3 separate regions of the Homo sapiens genome follow, and regions 1 and 2 are each reported to be linked to region 3. The links are microRNA targets in miRTarBase. Many come from high-throughput screens and were not tested one by one. Region 3 holds a microRNA gene; each other region holds the end of a gene's coding sequence.

The links. Region 3 holds the annotated microRNA hsa-miR-4652-5p (AGGGGACUGGUUAAUAGAACUA, at 5,653-5,674, shown strand). A microRNA usually pairs through its seed, bases 2 to 8, with sites in the 3' UTR of a target mRNA and lowers its output. Matches are read on the target gene's strand: a 7mer-m8 pairs with bases 2 to 8, a 7mer-A1 pairs with bases 2 to 7 and ends in A, and an 8mer does both.
Region 1: the mRNA of WASF3 is a reported target of hsa-miR-4652-5p. Seed matches in the 3' UTR shown: 7mer-m8 at 4,779-4,785 and 7mer-m8 at 5,830-5,836.
Region 2: miRTarBase lists CYBRD1 as a target of hsa-miR-4652-5p. Seed matches in the 3' UTR shown: 8mer at 8,986-8,993.

Annotation. Positions count from the first base shown.
Region 1 is chr13:26,682,644-26,693,830 of GRCh38, forward strand. WASF3 (WASP family member 3) reads left to right here. Exons shown (of 10, transcript NM_006646.6): 9 at 1-331; 10 at 3,045-6,305. The coding sequence ends at 3,202. LOC107984597 (a long non-coding RNA gene) reads right to left here. Exons shown (of 3, transcript XR_001749798.2): 2 at 873-940. Among named protein-coding and RNA genes, the nearest start is that of GPR12, 73 kb to the right of the region's middle.
Region 2 is chr2:171,553,690-171,564,714 of GRCh38, reverse strand. It overlaps CYBRD1 (cytochrome b reductase 1), which reads right to left. Exons shown (of 4, transcript NM_024843.4): 4 at 6,586-10,191. The coding sequence ends at 9,888. Among named protein-coding and RNA genes, the nearest start is that of CYBRD1, 37 kb to the right of the region's middle.
Region 3 is chr7:93,711,285-93,722,471 of GRCh38, forward strand. It overlaps MIR4652 (microRNA 4652), which reads left to right and starts at 5,644; the gene lies at 5,644-5,721.

The sequences.
Region 1 (11,187 bases), not on the chromosome of region 3:
TCCGGACCACCTCCTCCGCCACCTCCTCCTGTGATTCCCTCAGCACAAACTGCCTTCGTCAGCCCTCTCCAGATGCCCATGCAGCCCCCGTTCCCTGCATCAGCCAGCTCCACGCACGCAGCTCCTCCTCACCCACCCTCCACCGGGCTCCTGGTCACAGCCCCGCCACCCCCGGGCCCACCACCTCCCCCGCCAGGCCCTCCTGGTCCCGGGTCTTCTCTTTCGTCCTCCCCAATGCATGGCCCCCCAGTAGCTGAGGCGAAGCGGCAAGAGCCTGCACAGCCACCAATCAGTGATGCTCGAAGCGACCTCCTCGCTGCTATTCGAATGGGTAAGTGGAGCCCCCAGACACACAGCCTGCCTTTCAGCAAGAGGTTTCTTCATGTCTCCAGCCAGCTACAGCCTCCTTGTCTTCAAATGACTACTCACTACGTTTTTTAAAATAGAGTTAAAGGGGTCTTACTTGATTTTTTTGTTTTGTTTTGAATAGTAGTTGTGTTTTTGTCCAGTGTAAGGTAATCAAATTGTGATAAAGATTGGGAAACAGCCGGGCGCGGTGGGCTCATGCCTGTAATCCCAGCACTTTGGGAGGCCAAGGCAGTTGGATTGCTTGAGCCCAGGAGTTTGAGAGCAGCCTGGGCAACATGGCAAAACTCTATCCCTACAAAAAATGCAAAAAAAAATTAGCTGAGCATGTTGGCCTGAGCCTGTAGTCCCAGCTACTCAGGAGGCTGAGGTGGGAGGATTGCTTGAGTGTGGGAGGTCAAGGCTGCAGTGAGCCGTGGTCACGCCCCTGCACTCCAGCCTAGGCGACAGAGCGAGACCCGTCTCAAAAAAAAAAAAAGAATTGAAATTAGGAAGTTTTTACTTACCTTGAAACCAGAAACCCAATAACTGAAGTGATCGATTAATTAATTGGATCTCTTCTCTGCATTCTGCTCTAAGGGGAAAAGTATAAATGAAAGAAAGTGAGCTCATATTAATGATTTCTTTAAAAAAAAAAAAGAGTTTGTGCTGGACTTGTCATATTTGCTTGATGTCCTAAGCCAGTGGTTTTTCAGAATCTATAATATTCAACAGCATAACCCTTTTGTCAGATGAAAGTCCCGCGTTGACCCCCTGACCACAAAACACATGGAAACAGAGCATCTCAGGTGGAATTGGGTGGGGAGTCTGCCCTCGCCTGTCTTGGGCTGCCCAGAGAGCCCCTGGGAACCTCCAGCCCACACCATGGATTCTTAACCAGGTCCCAACCCAGGTTGGTCGAGGGTCCCTGACATGTTATGGGAATATCCAAGAGCTTCTCGCCTGTGGGGAGCTGCACAGACTTGGTCACAGTTTAGTCATCTCATCTGGAAGTGACCAAGCAAGGAGCCTGGCTGCAGCCCGCCAGCTCAGCATCAGGGATGTCCTTCAGAGGAGCTGTGATGCTGCTGCCTCTGCGTTTTTCTTGTGTGCCCATGAACCAGGCCCACAGTGTGGCCCACGCACCCTTCTAAAGACCCCAGGGTCCTCTGTGTACCTGGACATCATTGACACACTTTTATTTTGTCAAGATAAAAAAGTCCTAGAGGTATATTAGCTCATGAATATCAAGTTCGGGGTCATTGTAGGACGGTGTTGGATTTGCCTTTTTTTTTTTTAACACCTTATAAGCCCTGTCTACCAAGAGTAGATACATAATCTGTATCTAATCTCGAGGAAACATCTGATACACCCAAATCGACAGACATTCTGCAAAATAGCTTCCTATATTCTTCAAAAACGAGAAGGTTGTAAAACACAAAGACTGTGAAGAACTATCCAGATTAAAGGACATTAACAAAATTGACAACCAATGTCACGGATAATTTCCACTGGATTCTGAACCAGGGGATAATCTTTTCCATTTGCAATTAGATTGGGTCTTTTTGCAAAATTTGAATAATATTTGTAGGATAGATAGTAGTAGTGTATCCAAACTAATTTTGTGATTTTGATATTTTGGGTGGGCGAGGCGGGGGCGGTAACACATGAACTATTTTAGGGGTAAAGGGACATTATATGCCATTCACTCTCAAATGGTCCAGAGAAAAGTGTCTGTGTCTGTCTGTGTAAAGATGATAGGGGAAGATTGGGAAATAAATGTGGTCAGATGTTAGCAGTTGGGGAATCCAAGTATATGGGAATGTTTTTCTGCTGGTCTCATAGCTGTTCTGTAAATCTGAAATTATTTCAAAACAGTTAAAAAATGAATGGATACCATCTTGGGCAACATTGCAAGACTCTATCTCTACAAAAAAGAAAATACAAAATTTAACCGTGCATGGTGGCGTGCGCCGGTGGTTCCAGCTACTCAGGAGGCTGAGGTGGGAGGATTGCTTGAGCCCAGGAGGTCGAGGCTGCAGTGAGCCATGATCGTAACACTGCACTCCAGCCTGGGTCACAGAGTGAGACCCAATCTCAAAAAAAAAAAAAAAAATGGATAAACATTAAATCATCAAATATCTTACTTTGTTACTAAGCTAGAAAGTAGATGATTGTATTTTATGTTTGTTTCCACAGTAATTGTTGAAATAAAGGTTTCTCAGTTACTTCTTGGGTTAGCTGAGAGTGAGTAGCATAGAACACTGTTTCCAAGGCTCTGGATGCTGTTGCTGCCTAGTAGATGTCCTGTGGTGATAGAAATGCTCCAGCCTGCAGCGTCCCAGAGAGTAGCCACTAGCCACATGTCAGTTCATGCTTTTAAGGCTATATGTGCCTAGTGGCTGCTGTCTGGGATGGTGCAGCTCCACAGTTTTCTCTAATGGTGTTCAGGTACACTGAAATTAGGAATTTTTAATATTTTAACACATTACTTTGTTACAAAAAAACTTCTCACTTTGAATGCATGTTTTTTCTCATGAAACTTTTAATATTCCCTGAGCTTTTCTCCCCTCAAATTTCTAAAACTTTCTGTCCTTAGTGTCAGTAGAAAAAAAAGTCCAATAGACATATTTGTTCGTTTATCTTTAATTTGGAGCCAGCAAAAGGATGTGATTCTGAACCACGTGTTGTGTCTGCAGGAATTCAACTGAAAAAGGTGCAGGAGCAGCGGGAGCAGGAGGCCAAGCGGGAGCCAGTGGGGAATGACGTGGCCACGATCCTGTCCCGGCGCATTGCCGTGGAGTACAGCGACTCTGACGACGACTCAGAGTTCGACGAGAACGACTGGTCCGACTGAGCAAAGGCCGGCGGAGAGGCCGCGTGTGGGAGCGTGTTGAAGATTTTAAGTGGTCTCTACACCCAAATAGTGGTATTCTAATCCCGTAGCATAGCACCTTTTGTATAAACAATGTGATATTGCTTCTGCACATCCAAAAATTCTGGGTCTTTTCAGTATTTACTGTGTAATACTTAAGTGCCACTAAACATAGCAAATTGTGCTGCACATGAGGAAATAGGCTGTCACTATCACATTGTCCTGAAAACAGCATCTGCTTTCCTCTTGGCCATGAGAGTATTTAGTGCAGTTTGGGTTTACTCTTACTGATCAATATAACTCTGCAGACTTGCTGTGTGTTTGTGAAGCTGCCTGGTGTTAGGTCTCTGCAAGACTAATGACTATGTCAGAGTGATGTCTTCCAACCAGTAAGTGATATTGTTTCACCGCTTTGGTTTTTCCTTTTGTTTTTTTAAAGGATGTGTTTCTGAATAAGTTGGTTTTAGAGGGAAAGGTTCAACAAACAGGGAGAATCCAGTGTTTCTGCTTTCAGTTTCTTGGCTTGGTAGCCTCTGAGTGAATCTGATGCTCTGCTGAATAATTTCATTACCTCTGCACATGCCTGTCAAATATGAAATTGGAAGGGCCCTTTTCAGGCTGGGTTCCCTGTGGGCATTTGCTTAGTAAATGCCTGTTGATGGTTTTTGCAAGAGAATTCAGCAGCTCAACAGTAATGAAAGTGAAGAACAGAGTCCATTTTCCTTCCTGGGGCCATTGGGGATGACACTCAAGATACTTGCCAGTCTCTCCAGTGTGGGCACCAGCCGGCCAGAACAGATGCGAGCAGTCCATGACTCTGGGAGCTACACCGCTGAGCTGGGCAGAGCTGCGGCACAGGGCCTGGGCTGCAAAGGAGCCCTGCTCCTTTAGTTTCCTGACACCTGTGTCCTGAGTGAGCCGCAGGAGTTCTTAGCTCCTCAGCGAGCAACAGAGAGCACTTTAGATGGCACCTTTCACCACTTGGTCAGAATTTTAAAAGCTTAGGTTTAGGTGAAAGTAGATATTGACAGCTATTCACCTTTCACGGTGCTGGGGCCAGATTAGGGATCACTCCCGTGAGGAGGGCCTTCACCCTGTTCTAGAAGCACATGGTTGTCCTCCTGTTGTTGGCACATTAAATGATAAAAAGCACCTCATGAGATTCCCTTGATCAGCCCTGCAGCTGTAGTACAGTGCTGTGCCCTCACCTCCACCCTTCCTGTTGTTCCCACGTGGGCAATACCAGGGACCCATGGGGAAACTCAAGAATGACAGCTTCTATATTTTGTAATTCTGGATGAAAGATAACTGTGTTGAACAAACAGGTGCTCCAGGCTTTGATTATAGATACGACTTCAAAAATATGCTAAGACGCTTGACTTATTAAGGACTTTAACCTACTCAACAGTATTTCATATCCATTGTGGTTAGTTACTCAGTTATGTTGAGAAGAATCTGGAGCTAAAAGCAGAGATGTTTGAGGTGACGGTAGGAATGTGAGCAGGATGGTGATGGGGGTTTTTGTTAAAATGCATCTGAGCAAGTCAGCCAGCCCCGAAGTCCCCTCAGTGTGTGTGTCTCGAGTGGCTACCTGTTGGGCTTGTGGGCAGTGATTGTACAGAGCCTGTCCATTGGGTGCAGTCATGTAGATCTGAAGCCCTGAAAAGCCTCATGTCTGCATCCCCTTTCCAAGGCTGCTTCCCTGGTGTGTCTGTTCTCTCCTCTGTCCCAGGTGCTGGGAGCGTCCTCTTCAGCGTCTTTTCCTAGAGCTGGTCACCACTAGGCTGTCACTATAAATTCCTTGAATATAAGTAACAGTTATTAATGAACTTCTAAATTTCTAATTTCTCTCTCTCTCTCTTTTTTTTTTTTTTGTTGTTGTTAAAAAGGGCCTACTACATTGGCGCTATTCTTAGGACTTCTGCAACTTTTAAAGTCTTACTTGTCTTTCTTGTTGCTTTTGTATTAGGAGTTCCCCGTGTGGGTCTAGAACTCCCCTTTGGTAATGCTTCTTTGTTTTTTTATGGCCCTTCTGTTCTCAGGATGGAGAGAACACAGAAGCTACTATCCATGTCAGGATTTATTCTATTTATATCTTATTACAATAAAATTAGTGGCACTTTATTCATAAATATTCATGAGCCTGTTAATTGTTAGTTGTCTTCCTGTAGCTGAATCAACAAGTTATTTTCAACTCAATTTTATGACTTGCGAAAAAGCTTTTGCCCTGTTGTGTACCATAACATTTAAAAGAATGGAAAATGACTGAAATCCAATTTAGATTATTTTTAGAGTATTTTTCCAGCAAATTCAATTTATTCTGAAATTTAAATCCAGATCTTTTCTAATATGGTATTACAATGAAAAGAATAAAGAGAAGATTTGAATTTTCAGTTTCATTTTCAAAAACTATTTACCAAAACAAATGGAGAAGAAACATCCAAAAGCACATTTCATTTCTCCAAACTTTGTGTTTTAAATTATAGTTATAAATTGTAAGGTAATTTTAAATTGTCCCTCGTATTATTTCTCCACGTCTGTTTTAGTTTAATGTCTCCTAAGCTTTTCTCTCATAGCGTAGACCTAGGGAAGGGATGGGAAGATTGCCCAGTCCCCGATGGCTGCGCACACAGGAGGCGGCGGAGCACAAGGCAAGTGAGTTTGCACTGTCAGCCCCAGACCGTAAGCTTGGCTACACTGATGTTTTTCTTTACTAAGGATACTATTCAAAAATTAACATTTTCATCTCAGTAAGTTTTTAGAACATCAAAATGTTTTCTGAGCTCCAAGTGGCTAGGTTGTAAAAGTTTTATAATAATTTGCAATTAAAATACATGATACATATTAATCCATTAAAGACTAGTGGGAATGTATCAGCCAGAGTAGCAAGTAATTTTTGTTTTATAAATCATAGTATCTGTCATCTTGCAGTATTACCAATGCTGTTGTAAATTGAATTTAAAGTGGTATTAAAAAAAACTGTTAAACAATTTTTATCTGTTTGTATATCTTACTATAGATTATGTACAAGTAACATCTAAATAAAATTACACTTTTAACCCTAAGAGGTTTTGCTTATTAATAACAGTGTTGTATGTTTGGCTTTTTTGGAAGAGAACTTGGTGTTAAGTGGTTTTTTGTTTTTGCTTTTGTTTAGCATTTTCCTTATTAGACAACAGAAGACACTACTTTGGTTTCCATTTAAATTTCTACATAATTTTTGTGTCACCAAGAGTTCAGATTGAATTCCTGAATGACTCGGGGCAGCACTAGTCTGGTTAGAAAGAAAAGGCCATGCTGGGAGTAGGGCAGCCACCTGTTGAGAGGATAGAGCCTGGGGCAAGAGGGTCTTAACCACATTTACTCTCAACGGTAAAAGTGAATAACACGCTGTAGTATGTATGTATTGCTTATGAGATGTTTTCATTTAATCCTTACAATAATCCTTAACATTCTGTTTCATATGTGGGAAAACTAGAGTGAAGCTAAGTTACTCTCTCAGGGACCTTGGTCGATAGAAAACTCAGTTCTGGGGCAGAATCACATGTTGGGGTAATGAGAGTCGAGATTGGGTGGGTAAGTGTGGCCACATACTTCAGAGACAGCCAGACTGGAGGTCAGGCTTCCTGTAGAAGCTGCTTTCAAGTTCCTGATGCACACGGTGTGTACCTCTACCATGGCACGCATCATGTGGTATGATGGCTGGTTCTGTGTGTAGCCTTTCACTGGACTGTGTGCTCCTTGTAGATGTAAGTCATCTTTGCATCCTGAGAGCCTTGGCACAGCACCCAGTCTCCTAGACAATGAGCAGCTGCTTTTTGCATGATTAGATGAGTGGATGGATTCCTGAGTGGTTTTCTTTAGCAAAAAGTAAAGTGTGAGCAACTTTTTTAAACATGGCAAATTCTACCAAATACCTTGACCTTGCATTTCCTCCTTAGTACTTGTCATCTGATGTGTGGCTCCCTCTTTATGGTGTGTATTCCCCACCAGACTGAGCTCTGGGAGGCAGGAAGGGGCCTGTTCTGCTGTATCCTGTGTGTTGAGCACAGTGCCTGGCACTTTCTAGGTTTCAAATAGTTATTTAGGGATTGTTGTTCATAGGGAAAAAGGGGAGGCTTCTTCAACAACTGTTTGTGAGCCTAATAAGATTTTTAAATACATGGATATGTGTAAAACACTTGGAAGAGTGCCTGGTGCTAAGCAGACACCCAGTGGTTGTGACCCACCTCTTTCGTCTACAAGCCACTGGCTGAAAAAGAGTGGCAGGCTGGGCCCTGCCCTCATGGGGCTGCTCATCTAATGAGAAAAAAGGACATTAAATATTGTCGAATAAGTAATTTAGATCATTTGACATGTGCTGAAGTTTGGGGCAGAATGAGAAGTGCCCAATCTCAGTGGGCCAAGAGAAGCTGAGATTTGAGAATGAACAGAAGTTAGCTCAGGGAAGGGAAAGGAGTTTTTCAGTAGAGAGAACAGCCTGTGCATTCCCTAAGATGGGAAAGACAATATGGGGTGAGAATGGAACTAAAGTATTGTGGAATGGAAGCACTGAGAGGAAGAAGTGTCATGAGATGGGATACAAAGATGCTGGAAACCTCCCATGCCCAGCATTCGGGATTTAGGGAGCTTTCTGAACCAACAAACCCCACCATGATGACATGTCTGCCATAGCTGCACACCTATCAAAATATTCATATTTACAGCCTATTGGTTTTTTAATTGATCTTGATAGCCTCATGCCTTAGATGGCACTAATCTTAGAAAGGATCTTAGGTCCGTTTTATTTATATGTATTTAGAAGGCATCTTAGTGCTCTGCTAGTCTAGCTCCTACCTTTAAAGATGGGGAAAAGGCCATTGCTTCCATTGATGGGGGCTCAAAGCTTGGTCTCTTGACTCTTGAATTTTCAAGAGTTCAAGGTCCTCCTGTTCCACCTTTCAGAGTTAGGTAAATATCCCTCACCCTCTGTTTCATTATGAAAAAAATTAAAATCTACAATAAAGTTGTTCAGTAAACACTCATATACCCCTCTCCATCTGTTCATCAATTCTTATCTTTTATGCATTTCAAAGTAATGTGTATTCTTCACCCCGAATTCTTCAGCATACATATCATTAGAGTTTAATATTTATAATGTAAAATACACTTAGAGTAGGTTCACTGACTCTATTCTGTCATCTGTTATATAATTTGCTCTTAAGCCCATCTAGTAAATTTTTTATTTCAGACATTGGATTTTTTCACTCTAGAATGTCCTAATGGTTCTTTTTTGTTGTTCATTTATTATAAGCTTATTTTCCTTTACATCTTTGAGCATAGTTATACTGGCTCTTTAAAAATCTTTGCTAATTCCAACATCTGGATTTTTTTTTTTTCAGGATCAGTCGCTATTGAGTGTTTTCACTCTTGAGTGCATGCCTAATAGTTTTGGATTGTATTGTAAACTCGGTGAATGATACATTTTAGAGACTCTCGATTCTGTTATGTTCCTCCAAAAAGTACTGATTTTTTTTTTTTTTAAAGAAGACAGTTAACATGGCTAGAATTAAACTCTCAATTCCTCCCTGCCCCCATCACCCAGCACACACACAATAGACAATAGCAGAAATTTCTTAAGTTCTTTTAACCTTAGCCAGGCTGTTTGGAGTTTATTTGGCTCACGCTTGGTTACAGAATCAAACAGAGACTCAGGCAGTTTTACACAGAATTTTTGGATCCCCCTCTGGCTCTTGTTTGTAGGAACACTTCACTTTCAATCTTCTTTGATCGCTCTGAACTCAGCCCTCTCATTTTTTTAAGCCAATAAGATGGTGGGTTAAGTCAGCCAGCCAAGACTGCAGATTTTCTGTTCAGGCTTAGCTGCCTGCTTGGCAGAACAGGGCCTGCCCTCACCAAAATGCCTTTAATAATCAGAAATGCAAAGCCTTTTTCTTCTGCCAAGCGTCAGCTCCCCTCTCATGTGTTTCTGGTTTTGATTTCTGTGCAATGCCTTCGATGGCTGTGAGGTGTATTTTGTCCAGTTCATAATTGTTATCTGTAGTGATTTGGTCTGAAATGAGCTAGTTCTCCAGTCCCAGAAGCCTCATTCTATAAATACTTGATGCAACATTTATTTTTAAAAATGTTAATGTAAATTTAAAAATGCAAACTGATGTTTAATACCCAATTACAACAAATGATCAGTGTCTCCATTTTTCTGCCAAGCAAACTTGTGTTTGCAAGGACCCCACAATAAAACTGGTGACATAGTTCTTTAACAAAGTGGTATCCAAGTATTGCATGATGTGATAGGAAACATGTGTCTACGTCTTATCTGTGAATCAGAATGTTCTTTAAGGCCGGATGCTGTGGCATGCCTGTAATCCCAGCACGTTGGGAGGCTGAGGTGGGTGGATCACTTGAGGTCAGGAGTTCGAAACCAGCCTGGCCAACATGGTGAAACCCCGTCTCTACTAAAAATACAAAAATTAGCCATGCATGGTGGTGTGCGCCTGTAATCCCAGCTACTCAGGAGGCTGAGGCAGGAGAATTGCTTGAACCTGGAAGGCGGAGGTTGCAGTGAGCACGGATTGCACCATTGCGCTCCAGCCTGGGCGACAGAGAGAGACTATGTCTCAAAAAAAAAAAAACAAAAAACAAAAAAAACCCAAACCCAGAATGTTCTTTAAACCGTGCAAGCAGAACAGTATGTGAGTCACATGGGCATTAAGACTACTTTAACAAATCGTCAGCCTTACCCCCAGTCTCCATTTTTATGTTCATCAAATAACTTTAATATTTTCACTGAGTTTTATAAATTTAGATTCAGGAATAAATCTATACACATAAAATATTTACTTTTAATTATTGGGGTTCATTTGAATCAAGGGTTCCACTACCTAAAACTTTGTAACCACTGCCTAGCATCACCAGTATGTAAGGGTTCACGTTGTTATGGGACTGTGTACTGTACTCAGATTTTGTGTTCTGTGAAGACAGTCCCAATACAGAGCTGTGTCACAAGCTTTTGAGGACATGGATATTTAATTTGGAGGTGTGGGTAACTTGTAGAGGTGTCCCAACAGGGAACTAGATGAGAAGGAGATTTGCTTCCCGAGTATACTTTCTTCCCGGGCCTGGCACCTGGACATTGATTTGCCAAAACACGTGAGCACTGTCCTGTGGATATCTGTACGTGCGATCTTTTAATTGCCCCACTGCATTTGCCCTGTGTACTTGTGATGTGAGTAATTAGCTTTAAATACAGCACCATGATTAGTTAGAGGTGGTGAATTGGCCGATGATTTACCATGAAGAAAAATTAAGAAAATATGCCATTTAAGAGTAATTTAAAAACCTACCAAGTGGTACTTAACGTGAAGTGACATTTAAAAGCATTTCATATTCGAGGATGTGCGTCAGCTGCTGTGGCCTAAAACCAGTTGAAACAGCAGTTTGACTCTGCAGCTGGCACGTCCTGAACCTGTGAACATGACTTAGCATCCGCATTCAGAAGATGTTTCTTTGCATGTGTGTAGGTGACGGTGGTTTGAAGTGTATCTTCTGAGAGCCACACTTGAAGATCTTGATAATTAAGTTAGGGGAGCAGCTTTCAGCTCCTTGACATGTCTTTTAATATTTCAGAGACCTAGCCAGGCATGGTGGTGGCTCATGCCTGTAACTCCAGCAATTTGGGAGGCCAAGATGGGAGGATCACTTGAGCTCAGGAGTTTGAGACCAGCCTAGGCAACATAGCAAGACCCCATTGCTCCAAAAAGAAAAAGAAATCAGCTGGGCATGGCAGCTCACTCCTGTTGTTCCGGCTACTCAGGAGGCTGAGATGGGAGGATTGCTTGAGCCCAGGGAGTCAAGGCTGCAGTGAACTATGATCGCACCACTGCACTCCAGCCTGGGTGACAGAGTGAGACTGTGTCTCACAAAAAAACAACAAAAATCACACACACACACACACACACACACACACA
Region 2 (11,025 bases), not on the chromosome of region 3:
CAGCTTCCAGTGATTGCATGACCTTCGGAAGACTTGTAAATGTTTATGTCTCTGCGATCTGGAGATTAACAATGCTGCAAAGCAAATAGTCCCTCAGGCCATTCCGGTATCTGACCAAGTTAGGATCTTGGCAAATGCTTTAGTTCCTCTTTCCTGGTGTTAGGAAAACATTTATTTCAATTATAAATATATTATCTTCAATTTCTTGATAAATTAGACTAAGCAAACATTTGGATGATGTCAATGAGGCAGACGGGATTCCGATAATACATGTTTTTCTTAGTACAAAAGTGATACTTAATTATAGAAAATACAGAGAAAACAAAAAGAAGAAAATGAAAAATGCCCATTATCCTACCATGTCTCAAAGATAACCATTTTTTAACATTATTTTATTTTATTTTACTTTATTTTTTGAGACAGAGTCTTGCTCTGTCACCCAGGGTGGAGTGCAGTGGTGCGATCTCGGCTCACTGCAAGCTCTGCCTCCCAGGTTCAAGTGATTCTCCTGCCTCAGCCTCCCAAGTAGCTGGGATTACAGGCCCGCACCACCACATCTGTCTTTTTTTTTTTCCTTTGTACTTTTAGTAGAGACAGGGTTTCACCATGTTGGCCAGGCTGGTCTCTGACCTTAGGTGATCCACCCACCGTGGCCTCCCAAAGTGCTGGGATGACAGGCATGAGCCACCACACCAGGCCAAAGATAACCATTATTAACTAATTAACTATTTGGTATATTATGCCTCCAGTTATTTGAAAGTGTATGCACATTCACATTTACAAACTCTTTTATATTCAATTTCTTTCACTTAATATTTTATGAACATATTTTCATATTGCTAATTATTCACTTGAACAATATAATTTTTGATGACATAGTTTTTGTATAGTGTAACTTTGTATTTGGCCATTCTTTATTAGACATTGTTTCCAAATACAAGAAATCTTTAAGATGATTTGCCACACAGATACAATCACTACAGTGGTGATTCTCAGTCTCTACTTGCACTCCATTCGCAATCCAGTGCTCTGTTAAATGAGACAGAGACAGAGAGAGAGAGAGAGAGAGTGAGAGGTTGAGAGAGAGAGAATGGAGGAAGGCTAGGCAAGGAGAGGCCTGAATCCTAATCATCACTCCACACTTTTCCACACCCTTGAGTTTTATTTGCACTTTTGCTTGCTCTTGGGGTGAATTAGCTCACACTTAAGGCTGTCACTGCTCCTCTTGCCTCACACCCTTTTACTTCCTTCATTTGAGTGTTCCAGGTGAGTTCACTGGGCCAGAACCTCCTACAATCTGCTCAAGACCTAGAGGTTTGAATGGGGAATGTGAGCGCTGATAGAGACAGGGAGCCAGGTCGTGGGTTGGGGAGGGCAAGGATGCTTCCTGCCCTCCTCCTTCATCACTAGTGGCTACTCTAGGGCCTGCCTGTGTGTGCCAGGGCTGAGCTAGGGCCTGGCCCCCTGGAGTTCTACAGAGTCCCTCTGGTACCTGAGCCACAAGAGAGGCACCTGTTCAGGAAATCTCATCAGAATCTAAACTTTAAGAGGAATCTCAGAACTTATCCATTTCAACATTCACCCAATGCTTATATTTCTCTTTTTCACCTTCATTCCACAAGAGAGAAATTTGTGACATGTCTCAGTCTAGCCTTAATGTGATAAGATTCATATAAATAGATATGAGAATATAGAAAACATTTATTTGGACTAGACTTCAGACTAAATTTCTGCCATAACATTCACCAAACTAAGGGATTGCTTATGTACAGTTCTGACCCTGAGGCTGACAACCAGATATTCTTCCCGTTGAAACAGAAAAACTCATACTATTCCACTCAGCCTAGAAATTTCCTAGTTATGTACCAGTAGATATTATACCAACCAGATTGCCAACTGTATTTGAAAGTCAATCAGAAAGCTTCTCCTTCCAAAATTCTCACCCTAATAGAACACTCACCAGCCAAATCCTGCATGAGCCGTCTTCCTTTCACTCTATAAACCTCACTCGCCTATCACGCCCCTTGAGTGGCTACCAGAAGGAAAGTGATCATAGCTAACTCACTCTAGTCAGATCTGAAAAAACAGGTTTCAGATAATTCTATAGACATTGTCTTTTTGACAAAACAAAAATGTATTCTTATGGATTGGTGATATAAATGAGCACTGCCCTGTGGGCTACCTCTGACATGAACAAAGGTCGGCAGACATGTGCTCCTGGACCGCTCCCGTATCGAGCATCCTCACCCACCCAAATTGGCCTGTCCTTAGAATGGCTGGCCTTACGGGTTGTGCCTCTGTAGTGAGTGAGGGGAACCCTTTTCAGTTTGTGCTCCCCACTCCTCTATTCTAGCTCCCTGAAGCCTGCATCCTATGAAGATGTATTCTCTTGGTTCCAAGACAGTTCTTCATACAGCCGATAATCATGGAAGAAAGTCCACATTCCTTTAAGAAGAGATGTGGACCCGGGGAATAAATGGTAAGGAGTTGTTTGAAATGCTTGTTCCCAGGTGCTGTAAAGAAATAGTACTTGAACATAAATTTAATTTATTTAGTAAGGCCATTTTTACTTCCTGCAGAAAGAGTACACTCACCAGAAGTTTTGCCCTTGGTGAGAAATGTATCCAGCCTATACCGGCTTATCCTCATTCCAAAACACTAAAGCAACTAACAGGGTTCCTTGGCATAACAGGCTTCTGCCGAATATGGATTCCCAGGTACGGCGAAATAGCCAGGTCATTATATACACTAATTAAGAAAACTCAGAAAGCCAATACCCATTTAGTAAGATGGACACCTGAAGCAGAAGTGGTTTTCCAGGCCCTAAAGGCCCTAACCAAGCCCCAGTGTTAAGCTTGCCAACAGGGCAAGACTTTTCCTTATATGCAACAGAAAAAAACAGGAATAGCTCTAGGAGTCCTTACACAGGTCCGAGGGACCAGCTTGCAACCCATGGCATACTTGAGTAAGGAAACTGATGCAGTGACAACGGGTTGGCCTCATTTTTTACTGGTAGTGGCAGCAGTAGCAGTCTTAGTATCTGAAGCAGTTAAAATGATACAGGGAAGAGATCTCACTGTGTGGAGACTTGTGGCTGTCAGACAACCATTTGCTTAAACATCAGGCTCTATTACTTGAGGGACCAGTGCTGCGACTGCACACTTGTGCAACTCTTAATCCAGCCACATTTCTTCCAGGCAATGAAGAAAAAAATAGAACATAACTGTCAACAAGTAATTGCTCAAACCTTCACCACTCGAGGGGACCTTCTAGAGATTCCCTTGACTGATCCTGGCCTCAACTTGTATACTGATGGAAGTTCCTTTGTAGAAAAAGGACTTCGAAAAGCGGGGTATGCAGTGGTCAGTGATAATGGAATACTTGAAAGTAATCCCCTCACTCCAGGAACTAGCGCTCAGCTGGCAGAACTAATAGCCCTCACTTGGGCACCAGAATTAGAAGAAGGAAAAAGGGTAAAAAGGAAAAAGGGTAAATATATATACAGACTCTAAGTATGCTTACCTAGTCCTCCATGCCCACACAGCAATATGGAGAGAAAGGGAATTCCTAACTTCCGAGGGAACACCTATCAAACATCAGGAAGCCATTAGGAGATTATTATTAGCTGTACAGAAACCTAAAGAGGTGGCAGTCTTACACTGTCGGGGTCATCGGAAGGGAACTGCCAAGTGGATATTGAAGCCAAAAGAGCCACAAGGTGGGACCCTCCATTAGAAATGCTTGTAGAAGGACCCCTAGTGTGGGGTAATCCCCTCTGTACTCAGCAGGAGAAATAGAATGGGGAACCTCACGGGGACATAGTTTCCTCCCCTCAGGATGGCTAGCCACCAAAGAAGGGAAAATACTTTTGCCTGCAGCTAACCAATGGAAATTACTTAAAACCCTTCACCAAACCTTTCACTTAGCCATTGATAGCACCCATCAGATGGCCAAATCATTATTTATGGGACCAGGCCTTTTCAAAACTATCAAGCAGATAGTCAGGGCCTGTGAAGTGTGCCAAAGAAATAATCTCCTGCACTGCAGGCCATACATTTCAATCCCTGTATCTTTAACCTCCTTGTTAAGTTTGTCTCTTCCAGAATCGAAGCTGTAAAACTACAAATCGTTCTTCAAATGGAGCCCCAGAAGCAGTCCATGACTAAGATCTACCGTGGACCCCTGGACCGGCCTGCTAGCCCATGCTCTGATGTTAATGACATCGAAGGCACGCCTCCCGAGGAAATCTCAATTGCACGACCCCTACTACGTCCCAATTCAGCAGGAAGCAGTTAGAGCGGTCTTTGGCCAACCTCCCCAACAGCACTTGGGTTTTCCTGTTGAGAGGTGGTACTAAGAGATAGGACTAGCTGGATTTCCTAGGCTGACTAAGAATCCCTAAGCCTAGCTGGGAAGGTGACTGCATCCACCTTTAAGCACGGGGCTTGCAACTTAGCTCACACCAGACCAGTCAGGTAGTAAAGAGAGCTCACTAAAATGCTAATTAGGCTAAAACAGGAGGTAAAGAAATAGCCAATCATCTATCACGTGAGAGCACAGGGGAAGGGACAATGATTGGGACATAAACCCAGGCATTCGAGCCGGCAACGGCAACCCCCTTTGGGTCCCCTCCCATTTTATGGAAGCTCTGTTTTCACTCTATTAAATCTTGCAACTGAAAAAAAAAAAAAGATGGGCTAGAGGCAGGAACCAAGTTCTTTGAATGCTGTGAGGAGAAACATTCCACCCAGACTGAGGCGTGGTGGGAGCAGGGGCAAAGGAGATGAAGCAGGAGCTGAAAAGCTCTAAAATCTGAGTTTTAGAGGAGATGCTGAATTCAGCAAGGTGTAGAAAGTTGGGTAGGATATTTGAGTATGTTTTACCAGATCCTCATGACCTTATTGTAGCTATTACAGGGCAGAAATTTGTCTTAAACCTAGCAGAGAACCACTACGTAGAATAATTTGCTATTCCATAAATATTCCTTTCTGTTGACTCCCAAATTTTTTTTTATTTTTTTATTTTTATTTTTATTTTTTGAGACAGAGTCTTGCTCTGTCACTTAGGCTGGAGTGCAGTAGCATGATCATGGCTCACTGCAGCCTTGACTTCCTGGACTTAAGTGATCCTCCCACCCTAGCCTCCTGAGTAGCTGGAACTACAGGCACATGCCACCACACCTAGATAACTTCTTAATTTTGTTTTTTTAGAGATGCGGTTTCACTTTGTTGCCCAGGCTGGTCTTAAACTCCTGGGCTTAAGTGATCTTCACACCTCAGCCTCCCAAAGTGCTAGGATTACAGGCATGAGACATTGCACCCGGCCAACTCCAAATTTTTAGACAGAGCTCTATTCCTTTAACCAATTGCATATTAAAGAGTCTCTGAATCCACCTATAAACTAAGCTTCTGTTTCAAGTTATCCCACCTTTTTGGGGCAAACCACTGCATACCTTCCATGCATTGATTTATGCCTTTCCCTATAACTCCTGCTTCCCTAAAATATCTAAAAGCAAACTGTAATTCCGACTGCTGGGGCACACTTTCTCAGGACCTCTTGAGACTGTGTTCCCCAGGTCATTGACACTTGTATTGGCTCAGAATAAACCTCTTTAAAATATTTTACAGGCTACTCTCTGCCTAGGGGGTAGCACTGCTCTACAGGAGCAGTCATGGTGCTGTAACACTGCCTCTTCAGTAAAGCTGTTTTCTTCCACCTCTGGCTTGCTCTTGAATTCTTTCCTGGGCAAAGCCAAAAACCTACATGGGCTAAGCTCCACGTTGGGGCTCCCCTGACCTGCATCAGTTTCTCTAATCTCTTACTGCTCAGGAGTCAAGTGGCCAGAGGTCACAAAATTTGTGACTTCCCCAGTTGCTCCTATAGATAACATCACTATTGTAGAACCTAAGATTGGTCAGGTAGTGAAGAGCTGACCCCATCTGGACTTGTGACTCATGACTTAATTGGTCCTGTGGCCCTCCTCCAGAGGGGGACTCAGTGCATGAGGATTGTTTTCTACACACCTATGATTGCATTCCCAACCAATCAGCAGCATCCATTCCCTTGCCCCTGCCCACCAAACTATCATTGAAAAACCCTAACCTCTGAGCCCTCAGGAAGACTGATTTGAGTGATAACTCCAGTCCTTCTGCTTGGCTGCTTTGCATTAATTAAACTCTTTACTGCGAAAAATTTTATATATATAAAATATTAAATATTATATATAAATATATAATAATAGTAAATATTATATATAAATATATAATATTAATAGTAAATATTATATATAAATATATGATATTAATAGTAAATATTATATATAAATATATGATATTTATAGTAAATATTATATATAAATATATGATATTTATAGTAAATATTATATATAAATATATAATATTAATAGTAAATATTATAAAATATGTATTATACATTACAGAGTCTGGCTTTTCAGTTAACATAATCAAGAAACTGAAAAAAGACTATCTCTGCTGAAAAATAAACAAACCAAAAACCATGGCAAAGAAACTTTCACAACAATGCCTACCCCTGCTACCCCAGACAAATTGATAACACACAAAGAGCTTCCAAAATAACTTTTATTACTATATAAAAGAAGTCAAGAAAAAATAGATGCATATTTTTCCTACAAAATTATAAAATATTCAGGATAGTTAATATTTTTTCCATAAATGCGCTAAGATAAAAAGATAGAAATCTTTTTCACTTAAGGTTTTCGAGTACCTTGTAGGAATTAAAGAACAATAATGTTCTTTCTTCTACATTTTCCTAAAGACATAGCAGTTACAGTTTCCTGCTGGAGTTATCTAAAAAAGGACATACCAAGATAAATTTTCTATCATATTGAAATAAAATTAGCATAAAGCTTTACTTCTGTCTTTGTGCTTTTAGATTGGCAACTGTGGTCAATCAGTGCTGCACTGGAATTTCCAACTCAGCAGGGGAAAGAATCTAATTAAAAATGACACACACTCTGTATTTTGTCCTTTAGAAAACAGAAACTGCTTGTCGATATCCCTTAAAAAGTGCAATTGCCTTCTTTGTCATTTCTTTGTAAAGTCTGAGATGTTGTTTCTAAACAGCACAGCTTACATGAAACCACGCAAGTAAAGGAAAGAAAGTGCTTTAGAGGGCAGGTTCCATTTGACACAAGCAGCACAGGAAGCCGTACACTTTTGATGACAGTAATTCAAAAAGTATATTCATTTGAGTTTCTCAATAAACGCTTTGAGAGAAAAGGCTTTAATGTTGATTCAGATGAGTGTTAAAATAAAGCTTTCTTTTCTGAAATTAGATTATGGGGTAAACCAAGCCAGATTATCTCTGGAGATGACAGAAGCCATAATTATTTTGGGAAATTTCAATCACTGTTTTGGAATTGATACCTAAGGCTTTCTTCTCCCCTATTATTTATGGGCTTTTTAATGAGATATTTTTCTCGGGAGATGCTTAGGTAGGAAATATCAGCTTTTGAAAGATAAAGGTACAATTATCATTAGAATCAAAAGCCCATTAAATAAGAGTCTCAAACAAAGGTTTTCTAGATATATTTTATATACGTTGTTTTCATAAAGATAGAAAAGAAATTCCTATAATATCTGTAAGATTATCCTCACATTAGCCCACATGAAAGATAAAATAAAGGGCTGAGATGGGGGGTGCTTAAATACTTTGCAACAGTGCTATTCTAGTGCCAAAGCCATAATTAACTTTTCACTGATAACCTGTTTCTTAGCCTATACAAAAAGGAATGGCCACCTCAATTCTGGCGGCTTAGTCACTATCTAATCCCTTCCTCCAAAAACCCTGGAATTTTGTGTTCCTCTATGTAATGGAACATCCAACTTATCAAATGATGTGTGACTATGCAACTACTCCTTCTATGGCACCAAGACTGTACCATGCTCCACCCATACTGAATTTAATTGTGCTACCACTTTGTGCCAGGCAGAGGGCTGGGTACTGGGGATCCTTCTGGCTCTATTACCAATTTTGGAAATAGAATTTAGTAGAGAAGAAGAGAACAGTGTTGCAGCAAGGGGATCTTGAATGGTTTTTCATGAAGTTTAAGGGATATGATGGAGTGTGGCTTGTATTCAGTCTTTGGAAGTAAGTACCAGTTACCTAAAAAGAAATCCACTAAGCACCAAAATGTTTAGTGTATTTGGTGTAGAGTTTCTACCCATATTAAAATGCTTCAGTTTAAAATTGAAGGGAAGGCAAAAAAATCAACCAAAAAATGAAAAGTATCATTTCAGCATAAGCACTACTCTAGGTTTTAATTTGTCAGCCCAGATCCCAGACAGAGATGATACTCCAAACATGAAAAGTCACCTCCAAGTCTCAATTCACTACTGAGAACCCAAAGCTCAAAATATCCCCTAAAATTCCATAAAAATCAGGAAAGACCCTAGCTATTGCCCCAGGGAAGGGCAGACCATGAGACAGGTCTCTTTTAGCTCCAAACTGAAAGTTGTTCAGCAGCTAAAATCCTGAAGAAAAAAATATTGCAATTAATTAACTTGAAAGCTACAGATATGCCTGTCCAAATCTTTTGTTACCAAGACACAATTTTAAGATCAAACAAGTGTCAAGGTAGGCCATGGCTTGTTGGCAGTAGTAGGGGCCCTATGGCCTATTTCCAGGTATGGGTGGCCCCTTTTCCTTGGTTATCTGGGGAATCTGCCACAGCAAACAGCAAAAGGTAAAAAGCATCCCTTTAATAACTACACCCCACTCCAGCAATTGAGGTTTATTCAGGGGTGGGTCAAAGTAGTACAAGACAAAAATAGCTTAGTGAAATGGTTAGAATCCAGACTGAGGTGCCAGACTGCCTGCATCTGAGTCTCAGTCCCACCATGTATGAGCCGTGTGACCTTGGGGTGAGTTACTAGCCTCCCCAGGCTTCAAATCTCTCACCTGTAAAATGGGAACAGTAACAATACCTACTTCATCCCGTCTGTCTGGGGACTGAATGAGCTAATATGTGTAAAGTGCTTAGAGGAGTGTTTGGAGCATAGTAAGTGCTGTGTGAGTACTTTCAAAAATAAAAACAAGAACTTGGGGAAAAGTGCTCTCTGAGGTTTGTAGGGCAGTGTATGCTACTTAAGTGTTGAAGCATATTTTCATTCTAAGAAGTTTAGCATCTGGATCATAAAGTACATCAACCCTAGGGAAGTCTTGGGGCTAACTTCAGTTTTGGAAATTCTTCCAAGTCTGACCAGAGAAGATCTCTTCAACCACCTGCTCTAATCTATCAATACCCTAACATAAACCCTAGTCTCCAGGGACAATTTGAGCCCAAACCAGCTGGGGAGGGAGCAGAAGGCAGGCATGGGGAGAAAGGAACCAGGTGCTTTCCTAAATTTCTTTAATATACTCTCATCATGGTATCTGTGTAGAGTCATGATCTAAACCCTGTCCCAGATATTCCTTATCGGATTTTAAACTTTTAGGACTGCTTCCCGCTAGTTGTGAAATCATTGTCTCCCAGAATTAACAGGAAATGACTGCATGACAACAGGCCAGGGATGCTGCCAGTTTATCCAATTAACTACTAGTAGACACATATTCACATATTGAGTATCTATTCTGCACAAGGCACCGTGCTAATGTTGTGGTCCTCAACAAGATAAAGGTAACATAACCACAATTTATATCTGCTATTATTTATATTAATCACATCCTTTCCAATTCAGGTCAGTTCATAGGCCTCAATCAATACAAATTATTTCAAGAAACCATCCTTTGTGATTAAAGTAAATATTGATACTACATAGCCCAATTATCATATGGCTAATAGGAGAAGCAAAACTGTAGAGCTAGTTTTGAAACGTGACGTTATATGGCTCTATCTCTACAACATTTTACATGGTAGATCTCTGCCCAGCCTCATCCAGAGCTAAGTTTCTTTTCCTTGCTGCTACTTCACTGTTTAACTCTGAATCTGATTTGTCCATGTTGTTGCCAGAGTAGGCTGGCATGGAACCTCTTGCTCCCTGTTCAGTGCCTCCATTTGGATGAAGAATGGTAGAATTTGGCTCCTTAGGACGTTTCCATTGCGGTCTGGTGACTATCCAAAAAATGAGGGCCCCGAACACCAGGATCAGAAGGCCAAGCGTATTTACGAAAACACCTTCTGGCGGGAATGTACTGTATGCAGGATCTCTCCTATGAAATAAGAGATGTATCCAATTACAAACAGGATGATACAGCAACATGCAAAACAGTCTTGAATTTATCTGCTCAAAATGCACACTAGTACAGTTTCAATGTAAACTCTCAAAGCTTGCTATTAAGGAGAAATATAAATTATGCTACAATTCACTCGGGAATATATAATGAAATTGATTTAAAAATAATAAATATGAAAATAATATAGCATCTGTAACACTTGTTTTAAGGCAGGTAGGGTCTGGAGGCAGGCAACCTCAGGTCAATTCACACGGACTTCCTAGAACTAAACCAAAAGGAAAACCCCAACTTTCCACATCTAAGTAGCAAAAGGACCCGAGGCTACTCCCTTTGCAAACCCCGCTTTTCTGCATGGCGGATGGAAAATTGAAAGTATCTCTGATTGGTTGCTTTCTACAACCAATCAAACTGACTGCAGGCCACCACTTCATTTACATGCAGTGAACACCAACTGGCCAATGGGAAACCTCTAGGGGCTATTTGGACCCAAGAAGATTCCCTATCGGGCCGTTGAGTGGCTGCTCAGGCCACTCCCGCCCTGTGGAGTGTACTTTCATTTTCAGTAACTCTCTGCTTTTGTTGCTTCATTCTTTACTTGCTTTGTTTGTGTGTTTTGTCCACTTCTTTGTTCAAAACGCCAAGAACCTGGACACCCTCCACCAGTAACAGTTATCACTTAAAATTTTTAAAAAGGATGAAACAAAAATGTATGTACACTATAATTACAATTAATATAAAAACATGCATATCAACAAGATTGAAAGGGAATGTATAACTTCAATAGTTGTTTCATAAGAGTAATACAATTTG
Region 3 (11,187 bases):
AAAGATGTCTTTGAAGATGCTGTTCATTACAACTCAGGGACCTCTTCAGTCCTGCTATCGGAGAAATTGCTCTCTCACTTTAGATACTTTAAAAAATCTTAGGGAAACTGTTGAGCTCCTCTCTGTGATATGTTTGCCAATGCTTACGTACAGATTTGTGGGTCCTTCCACTAAGTATGCAGAATCAGTTGGAGTGCATTTTGTGTATTGACCTCACTTATAATTACAGTTTATGTTTTATTTTCTCCTCTTACCCTATTTTCTTCATCTACATATTGAAGATTTTATAATTTGTGAGTTGATAAAATCTACTAAAGTCCTATTGGAAAAATTAGAGATGTAAATAAATAAATTATGGCATCTTCTTTAGTAAAAACACTGAATAGCCTAAAGGTATTAATTCTTCCCAAGTAATTTATAGTTTTAATGAAATTATAATCAAAGACCTATTTTGGATGTAGACAACATAATTCCAAATCTATTTTGTAGAATAAAGTGATGAAAAGACCTAAGAAAATGTTAAAAATGAAGAATGATTAGTCAACTTCCTCGACAATAGATTTAAACATTTGTAGAATTAAAAGTTTTAAAAGAATATGAGCTTTACACAATTCTGGGCAGGGAAATTAATAAACAGACACATGTTGACTTATGGCAACAACTTAATGTGGAATGAATAAATTAGTTACCAAATGGTTTGAAGGAAATACTTAATCTCATGCCTTACAACAAAATAAATTCCAGATGCATTAAGGGATTAATTTTTAAAGAATAGCGTACAAATCTACAAGCTATGTGTTGAATTTATCTTTATGAGAGGAAATTTCTGACGTAGAAACCATGGGAAACATAAACAAAGCGGGGCTTATGTAATAATTCGTTGCACAAACTCTGAAGCTGGTCCTCTGGACTCAAATCCCAACTTTAGAATTTGCTAGTGGTGTTATCCTGAACAAGTTAGTTAACAGCTCTCTCCTTCCATTTCTAAGATTTTAAATATGGAAAAACACAGTGTCCACGTCACCTGGATTTTGAGGATTTAATGGGATAACCGATGTGAAGTGCTTAGAATAGTGCTAGGTACATAGTAATTGCTAGATAAGTGTTATTATTTTTATTAGACTTGAGATATTAGATAAAGACTTAAAGCAATGCTAACATTAGAAAATACTTAGAATTTAAAGTGTAAAGTGTTAGGTGAAAATTTTCTGGTTAAAAAGAACAAAAAAAGTAGCATAATTCTAATTGTGTATTGAAAGTTATTTATACATATTTTAAAAGAAATCTAGAAGAAAATATCCTGAAATATTTCCAGTGGATAGATCTAGAGAAAAATGCAAGCATACCTTTTTTCATTGTCCTTTGCTTTATTGTACTTTGCAGATATTGCATTTTTCACAAATTGAAGGTCTGTGGTAACACTGTGTCAAGCATGCCTATAGGTGCTGTTTTTTCAACAGCATGTGCTCACTTTGTGTCTGTGTCACATTTGTTAATTCTCACACATTTCAAACTTTATTATTATTATTATATCTGCTATGATGATCCAAGATTAATGATCTTTGATGTTACTCTTGTAATTGTTTTGGGACAGCACAAATTGTGTCCATAATGATGGCACACAATCTATAAATGTTGTGTGTGTTCTGACTGTTCCACTGAGCAGCCATTCCTCCATCTCTCTCCTTCTTCCCAGGCCTCCTTATTCCCTGAGAAACAATATTGAAATTAAGCCGATTAGTAACTCTACAATGGCCTCTAAGTGTTCAAGTGAAAGGAAGAATGACACATCTCTCACTTTAAATAAAAAAGCTAGAAATGATGGAGCTTAGTGAAAAAGGCATATCAAAAGCTGAGATAGGCTGAAGGACTTCTTGTATCAAACAGTTAGCCAAGTTGTGAATCCAAAGGAAAAGTTCTTGAAGGAAAATAAAAGTGCTACTCCAGTGAACACATGAATAATGAAATGAAACAGGCTTATTGCAGATATGGAGAAAGCTTAAGTGGTCTGGATAAATTAAACCAGCAACAACATTTTCTTAAGCCAAAGTCTAATCCAGAGCAAAGTCCTAAGTCTCCTCAATTCCCTGAAGGCTGAGAGTGGGGAAGCTGTAGAAGAGAATTTTGAAGCTAGCAGATATTGGTTTATCATGTTAAAGGGTAAATAAAAAGTATCCATACCATAAGAGTGCCAGCTAAAGCAGCAAGTGCTGATGTAGAAGCTGTAACAAGTTATCTGGAAAATCTTGCGAAGATCATGGATAAATGTGGCTACACTAAACAATAGATATTCAATGTATACGAAACAGCTTTATATAGTATTGGAAGAAGATGCCAACTAGGAGTTTCATAGTTAAAAAGGAGTAGTCAATGCCTGCCTTCAAAGTTCTAAAGAACAAGCTGATTACCTTGTTAGAGGCTAATGCAACTGGCAACTTTTCGTTGAAGCCCATGCTCATTGATCATTCTAAAAATCCTAGGCTCTTAAGAATTGCACTAAATCTACTCTGCCTGTGCTCTATAAATGGAACAACAAAGCCCGGATGGCAGCACATCTATTTATAGCCTGATTTACTGAATATTTTTATCCCACTGTTGACACTTACTGCTCAGAAAAAAAGATTCCTTTCAAAAGGAATCTTCTCAAAATATTATTGCTCATTTACAAATGTCCCCAGTCAACCAAGAACTCTGATAGCAGTGTACAAGGAGATTATTGTTGTTTTCATGCCTGCTAACACAACGTCTGTTTTACAGCCTATGAATCAAGAAGTATTTTTTACTTTCAATTCTTATTAATTAAGTAATACATTGTGTAAGGCTGTAGCTGCCATAGACAGTGATTCCACCAATGGACCTGGGCAAAGTAAATTGAAACTCTTCAAGAAAGTATCACCATTCTAATGCCATTAAGAACATTCATAATTCATGAGAAGAAGCTGAAATATCAAAGTTAACAGGAATTTAGGAGAAGATTTCAACCCTCTTATATAACTTTGAGAGGCTCAAGGGTTCAATGGAGGAATCACTGAAGATATGGTGGAAACAGCAAGAGAACTAGAATTAGAAGTGGAGTCTGAAGATGTATCTAAATTGCTACAATTTCATGATAAAACTTCAGTGAATGATGAATTGCTTCATATGGATGAGCAAAGAAAGTATTTTTTTGAGATGGGATCTACTTCTGGTGAAAGATACTGAACATTGTTGAAATGAAAACAAATGATTTAAAATATTATGCAAACTTAGTTGATAAAGCAGCAGCAGGGTTTGAGAAGTTTGACTCCAGTTTGAAAGAAGTTCTACTGTGGGTAAAATGCTATCAAACAATATCACATGCCATAAAGAAATCTTTCATGAAAGGATGCATCAGTTGATGTAGCAAACTTCATTGCTGTCTTATTTTAAGAAATTTCCATAGCCATCAGAACCTTCAGCAATCACCAGCCTGATCAGTCCGCAGCCATCAACATTGAGGCAAGACCCTCCACCAGCCAAAAGATTATGAGTCACAGAAGGCTTAGATGATCATCAGCATTTTTTTAGCAGCAAAGTATTTTTAAATTAAAGTATATATTTTTTAGACATAATGCTATTTCACACTTAATAGACTAAAGTATAGTGTAAATATAACCTTTTTATGCACTTTGGAAACCAAAAACCTCATGAGACTTGCTTTATTGCAATATTCACTTTGTTGCATTTGTCTGGAACCAACCCACTAATACCTCTGAGGTATGCCTGTATTGTGTCTAATTTATTTTCTTATTACTTATCAAATTTTCCACAACAAGCATGCTTCTCCTTGCGTAATCAGAAAAGAAGTTATTACATTTTTTAGAAATGAAATCATTTAAATAATGAAAGAAGAATCACCCAATTTTATTTCAGAAATAAAACAGGAAGGGAAATTAAAGAGTAAAGGGAAAAGAAAAAATATTTTCTTGGGGTAAGGGTTGTAAGAGAAAAGGAAAGGTTTGTGCATATGTGAAAAAAGATTACTCAAAGTAGTATCAACCCAATTGTAGGTGTTAAGAGTTCAAAGATAGGAAGCTTTCTAGGGCATCAAAAACCCTCTAAAGATTTCGGAACTGCGGGAGGTAACATCTATCAAGAGAATTCGCCAGGGTGGCCGCCAGGGGTCTCCTGTGGACCAGGAAGCCTTGACCTAGGATAAGTCCATGGTTTATGAAGAGAGAAGGAGCCTGTCTTCATGGAAAGAGGGGAATGAAAAAGAAAGTCTTGTCCATATTTACGCGGCATAATCTTACATCCTAGAATCAATGAATGCTAGACCAGAAAGGAACTTGATGGATTTTCCAGCTTGGACCTCATTTTAAGATTAGGAAATTTAAACCCAGAGAGGTAGTGAGGACTAACCTGAAGTTACACAGCTGGTGAGACACACAGTTGGATAATACTACAGATATCATGGATGACTTTTATACCATCTTACACTGTTAAAAACTCAGAGACAATCAGTACATAGAATTGCCGCACTGCAACCACAAAGTGATTCAGGTGTTGAAAGTACTGATCTTTGGTATTATTTTCACATCATAGTAATGGCATATAATGTTTGGAAACATATTATATGCCTATTATAACTACTTCATATTATAATGTAGAACTTAGCTCAATTTTAATGTTCAAGAACTGTCAAATAAATGTCCATTATTCATTGTTTGACAGTTATGAATACTTTCTTTTCCCTTTCCTGGCTTAGACATCTTCAAGAATTAATCATTACACTCAGCTTTGTTGGTAGTGAAAAGAAAACAAGTGAAAATCTCAAAATATACCACTTTAAATATGCCATCCCTGTTAAATGTCCACATTTACACACCTGCATTGTGTGCAACTCTTTGGATTCTGTCCTCTGCCTGCATCGGGCTTCCTATATCCTTATCGCTTTCAGCCTCTCCTTTCTCCCATCTCAAAGATTTATCCGTACCTCCCTACTGGTGTCCCCTGGATCCTCATTGCCCAGCTTCCTCCTCCCTTGTCAGATGTAGCCTCTTTACTGTCATTCATTTGTACATCCATCCAATCCACAAATATTTCTTGAACTCCAGCTATATGCAAGCTCTTGTGCAAGAAGCTGTGGGATTACACAAAGCTGTGGGGTATTGTCAGAGATGCTTCTTCCCCACCTCCAATTCAACTTTACACCTCACAGGGTAAGCTGTAACAATTACAGATTGCTTTGCGGCCAGGTGCAGTGGCTCAGGCCTGTTGTAATCATAGCATTTGGGAGATCAAGGTGGGAATATCCCTTGAGCTCAGAACTTGATGACCAACCTGGGCAACATAGACTGTCTTTACTAAAAATTAGCTAGGTGTGATGGCACACATCTGTAATCCCAGCTACCCAGGAAGGAGGCTGAGGTGGGAGGATCGCTTGAGCCTGGACATCCAAGCCTCAGTGAGCCATGATCACACCACTGTACTCCTGGACAACTGAGAAAGACTCTCTCTCTCTCTCTCTATCTATCTATCTATATATGCATATATATAATATTATATATATAATACTTTAGATAACTAAGTTACATACTATATATATAACTATGCAAAAGTTGGTCAGACTGGAGTAGTGATGAGAGTGATAATGGCCAACAGTGATTCAGAATCGTTTGACTCTATTGGACGAGGGGACTGGTTAATAGAACTAACTAACCAGAACTATTTTGTTCTGTTAACCCATCCCCTCATCTAATAGAGTATAAACCTCAATATAAGCTCAACTAGGCTGAGTAAGGCCAAACAAGCAGTCCCCTAGTGTCAGACCAGAGAGAAAAAGTGATGAGAATTTTAAAAATCTTTGCAATCAATGTCAGTGGTGGTTGAGAAGACCTTCTGAAGGGAGACTATGTGATGAAGGATTACGAAGTGAAAGAAATGGTCAGCATATTGTTTCCATTGAAAAGACAGAAAATCTTAAATCCAAGGTCATGTTCCTGGCCTTGCTACTGACCTGTAGGCAACAACTCACTGAGTTTCAGACAGCAAGTCTCTCTTCTAACAAACAGCTGACAACACCTCCTCTTAAGTATTACCCAACCTCTGGCCCCAAAGCACTCCTCAGTCCTCCAGTGCTACAATAAGTCATAATGATTACTCAAATGAAATAGAGATCTTTATGAATGAATAAGTTGCGGTGGTATGAGTTTTGAAACCACATCCCAAACCACATAGTAGAGAACAACAAAATCAGGTCAACCCAGGTGCACTAAAGAGAACTTGCAAAGCCCTTAAACCTAGGAAAAGGAGGGAAGGAGAGGAGGAGAACAGGGAATAAGGGAGGAAGGGAATGAGGAGAGAGAGGAATGAAAGAAGGAAGGAACAAAGAAAGGGAGGGAGGGAACCAAAAGAAAGAGAAAGAAAAAGAAGGAAGAAATGGGGAGAAATGGGGAGAGAGAGAAAGAAAGAGAAAGAAAAGGAGGAAGGAAGGATGGAAGGAAGGAAAAGAAGGGAAGGAGGGAGGGAGGAAGGGAGGGGGGAATAGAGAGAGAGGGAGAGAGAGGAAGGGAGTGAGGGAAAGATGGAGAGAGGGAGGAAGGGAGGGAGGAAAGTTGAAAGCTTGTAGTATTTGCTGATTTTCATGGTGTATTTCCATCATATCCAATTTGTTGAATATGGAGTTCAGAAATGCTACCTGCAATTGCCTCTTGAGAGCAGGTTTGAGCTGGTGCCCACACCACTGTCTATCACTTTAGCCCTGTGAGTAACTGTCACTCATCTGTAAAATGGTGATAGCAATTTTGGCGTTGCCATTTCAAAAGACAACTGAGGAATTATTTGCCAGGGAAAAATATTTTTGATAACTAAGTTACATACCTTATAACAAAATTATAGCTGAATTAAATATTAGAGACTGAAAAAAATTAAGATAAATTATTCATGAATGTTACATAGTTTTTCAGCAAAATAACTTCCTATGAGTGATAACAAGAAAGCTATAAAGGAAAAGATTGAGGTATTGTATGGAATGAAAAGAAATTCTACTTTATGGCAAAAATATTATAAGCAGAGTTAAGGTTCATAGATACTTCTGCAGAAATTAAGAAAATAACATTAATGATTTTATACTATAATATTCCTCATGATTTCTGCTTTCTTTTGTATGCATGGTTATTATGTAATTCATACAATACAGTTTGAGGTCAGCAGACATTATAATCATCAGATGTCAAACTGCACAATCTGAGTCTCAGAGCTGAGTTGCCCAGCTTCTAAGTGTTATTTTTAGGGAAAATAGGAAATAATTGCTATTTCTGGATTAATCACTATGTCTAGGCTTGCAGTGATAAAAACAGAGGATAAACTGAGCCAATTTCTTTTGTTACTCAATTTGAATATCACTGAGGAATCCTAATAACTTGGAAGAGGGTCCATGCTAAATAAGAATTACGCGGGTGATGAAATCTGTGTGCTGGCAAGGAGTCACTAATCATTACCAAGCATTTACTGTCATCACTTTGGTTCTTTCTTTAATTTTCTGATGTTGAATTATTGTCTTAAATAATCGAATTGAATCATCCAGTGAAGGTATGGAAAAGATTTATCATTATGACATAGTAGTGCTATGTTTCCAATGGGTGTGACATTTCAATATTTGCTTTATTCAGTAATTTTTTTTACTATGTACAAATGTACAGGGATATTTAATTAATCGATGTGATAGAATGACATATTTCCCACAAATTACCGTAAGCAAGCAAGCAAGGAAAACAAACTCACAAATTATTTCCTAAATTGGGATAATATAATTAAAATTAACTTTACAATATAATATATTTCCTCACTAGAACAAAAACATAACAAAATTTAAAAACTCTTCGAGCATAATAAAGGACTTAAAAATACACATTTAAAAAAAAATTTAAGTAACTATCAGAAGGAAAGAAAGAAAATAATAATCTGCCACCAGGAGACTGCAACATTTCAGTGACTTTTTCCACCTCTCCTTCCTCCAAAACTAAAGATTATCTTCTCCCTTCTCAGCAACAGGCGTTTGAGAAAGGAGAATTCTAAAAATGAGGCTAGGAAGCAAGTCTAGCTTAGAAAAGGAGAGGAGGTGGGGGAAATTTTGGTGAATGGAAGAGTTAAGAGGAGTGAGGCAATAAGGATGACTAGATATGGGGAGAAAGTAATAGAGTGTGGGGTTGGAGTACGTATCCTGGCAGGCAAAGGAACTACCACATGGATATATGATGGTTAAAGCCATGAGGCTTCGTGCTAGTGGATGATGAGCATTGATGAGTTATCCCAATTGGGGTTCCAAAATTAACAGTGCACACTCCTTCTCCTTTTCCTCTCTTCATTTTTTACATGAATCTGATTACTCCTTCCTCAGGGTTCTATGTGTGAGAGAGACAAGTCTTTTCCCACTCCTATCCACTGACTCATCTCCAACTGCAGACCAGTAACAATGATAAGAAGACCATAAAACTGTGTGGGCATCACATGACCAGCTTACACAGTAAGCCTGACCACTCTGACCATTTTCTCCTTAGCAAGGATGTGGTTATGTTTTAACCCCAGTGTGTTTAGCTTAGCACCTAGAATTGGGAAGCTGCCATCTCTTTGGTTTCATGAAATTCTATTAGCATTTGGGCTCACTTGACCTTTCCTAAAATAATCAGGCTCCAAGCGTTGTGCTATTTCATTTGAGAAGCTAGAAACTGTAAGCAGGGAAAGAACTTCCAGTTCTATAGGGAAGCAGAAACTGTAGGTGTAACTCAGCCCAGTGTGTTTCTCTGTGTTTGTGTAACTTTAGCACTTGGCTTTGATTAAAGACGTTTTGGAAAGCAATCTTGTGAGGTGTTGGAAAGGACCTTTCTCTGCTAAGGTTTTGGGGTTTTGCATGTGGAATGGCTTTTCTGGAATTTTCCATCAAAAAAGATTACCTTGTTGAAAAAGATGATCACTACTTTCCTTCATTTTTATTGCCAGTTGTGTGGATGTAGCTATTCTTAGGTATTCTTATTTGTGTTCTAGGAATGAATGTTCATTCAACAGCTGAGGATAATGTCATCTACTGGAGAAGCAGCTGTTTCTCACCAAGCATATTGCAGACAATATTATTGCTCTAAACAATGCATAAATCAAAAGGGCTACAGAATATTTCTGGAGAGAAACCCAGAGTGCAAAGAAGTTTAACACCTTTTTAAAGGCCACAGACCTTGGTATTCATTCTGGGAAGTGAGGATTTGAGTTTTTCCTTTCAGACATTCTTTGTAAACACGCTCTTTTCACCCTAAGCAAACATCTTTCTTTTACCAGTAGCATATGTCTGACTTCTGGTTTATTCAGAAACACAAAGACTGTAACGTAATACTATTTGTTTATGAAATTTGAACGAATAACCCAGTCTCTGCTTTTTAGTGAAACCAACATAGATTATCATGTCATCTGCCAACAATTAGAGTTTATCTGTTTGCAATATGTATAACTAATATTATTTTTACATTATTGAGCTAGGTGGGACTTCCACTATAATGCTGAATATGAGCAGTGAGAAAGGACATTCATGCCTTGTGGTCTGATTTTAAAGATAAAGCATTCAGTCTCTTGGCCTTAAGTATGATAGTAGCTATTGGTTTTCCATATATACTCTTTGTTAGGTATGTAGGTAAGGTAAAATTGCACTTCACTCCAAGTTTTTTTTAATCATGAATGAGTTTTGAAGCTTATCGAATAATTTCTTTTGTTTATTGATATAATAATATAGTGTTTATTTTTCAGTCCATTGAGATGATAAATTACATTGATCTATTTATAAATGTTGAACTAGCCTTGTATTCCTAGGATGAACCCCATTTTGCTGTGAGGTATTATCCTGTTTGTATATTACAGGATTTTATTTCAAATATTTTGTTAAGGATCTTTGCTTCTATGTTCATGAGTGATATTGGTCTTTAGTTTTCTTTTGTTGTAATGTTTTAGTCTGGTTTTGATATTAGGATAACTCTGACCTAATAAAATTGAGTGGCAAAGATTCTTTTTTTTTTTTTGTATTTTTGAAAGAGGTTGTGTAGAATTGGTATTATGTTGTCCTTTAATGTCTGGAAGAATCTACCAGTGAAACCACCTGGGCCTGGTGCTTTTTTTTTTAAGTTATTAACTAATAATTTAATTGGGTTATCTATTTCTCCATGAGTGAATTTTGGTAGTATGCAGTTTTCAATTTTGAATTTATAGTTATGGCGTTGTTCTTAATATTCTTACTATCATTTTAATGTCTGCATCCATTATTATTTATATTGTTAACTTTTTTCTTTGTCTCCCTTTTTTCACCCTTAATTACCCTAGCTAGAAATACATCAGTTTTTAAAAAGTAACCAGCTTTTGGTTTCATTGATTTTCTTTATCGTTTTTAATGTCATGAATTTTATATACTTAATTAATTTTAATTGAAAAAATTGTATATACTTATGCACAATATGTTTGGAAGTATGTATACATTGTGGAATGGCTAAATAGTGCTAATTATAATTAACACATGCATTACCTCACATACTTATTTTTTGGGGGGTGAGAACACCTAAAATCTACTCTGCTACTAATTTTCAAGAATATAATACATTGTGATTAACTATAATCATCAAATTATACAATAAATCTCTTGAACTTATTTCCCCTATCTACTCAGAAGTAGAAAGTAGAATTGTGGTTATAAGGGACTGGACTGTGGGTGGTTGGGGAGATGTTATGAACAAGGGTTAAAAACCTATTGAATACTATGCTCATTACCTGGGTGATAGGATCAATCATACCCCAAACGTCAGCATCACACAATATACCCAGGTAACAAACCTGTACATGTACCCCGTGAATCTAAAAGAAAAGTTGAAATTATTTAAAAAAAGAAAAGAAAAATGATCTCAGTCATACTAGCAACAAAAATTACTAGCATTACCAGAAATAAACCTAATAAAAACTACAATTTGGTTATATAAGAAATTATAAAACTTTTTGTTGAAGAAGATAAAAGAAGACATGATTAAAAAGAAATATATATTATATTTGTGGAAGGGAAACACAACATCTAAAACGTGGCAATTCTCAGACTGATACATATATTCAATGCAATTTCAATCCAGACATATTTATTCAAGGTATTTGTTTGCTTTATATTCAGACAACCTTCCTATTCATTATGCTAGGTGTCTTTCTATAATT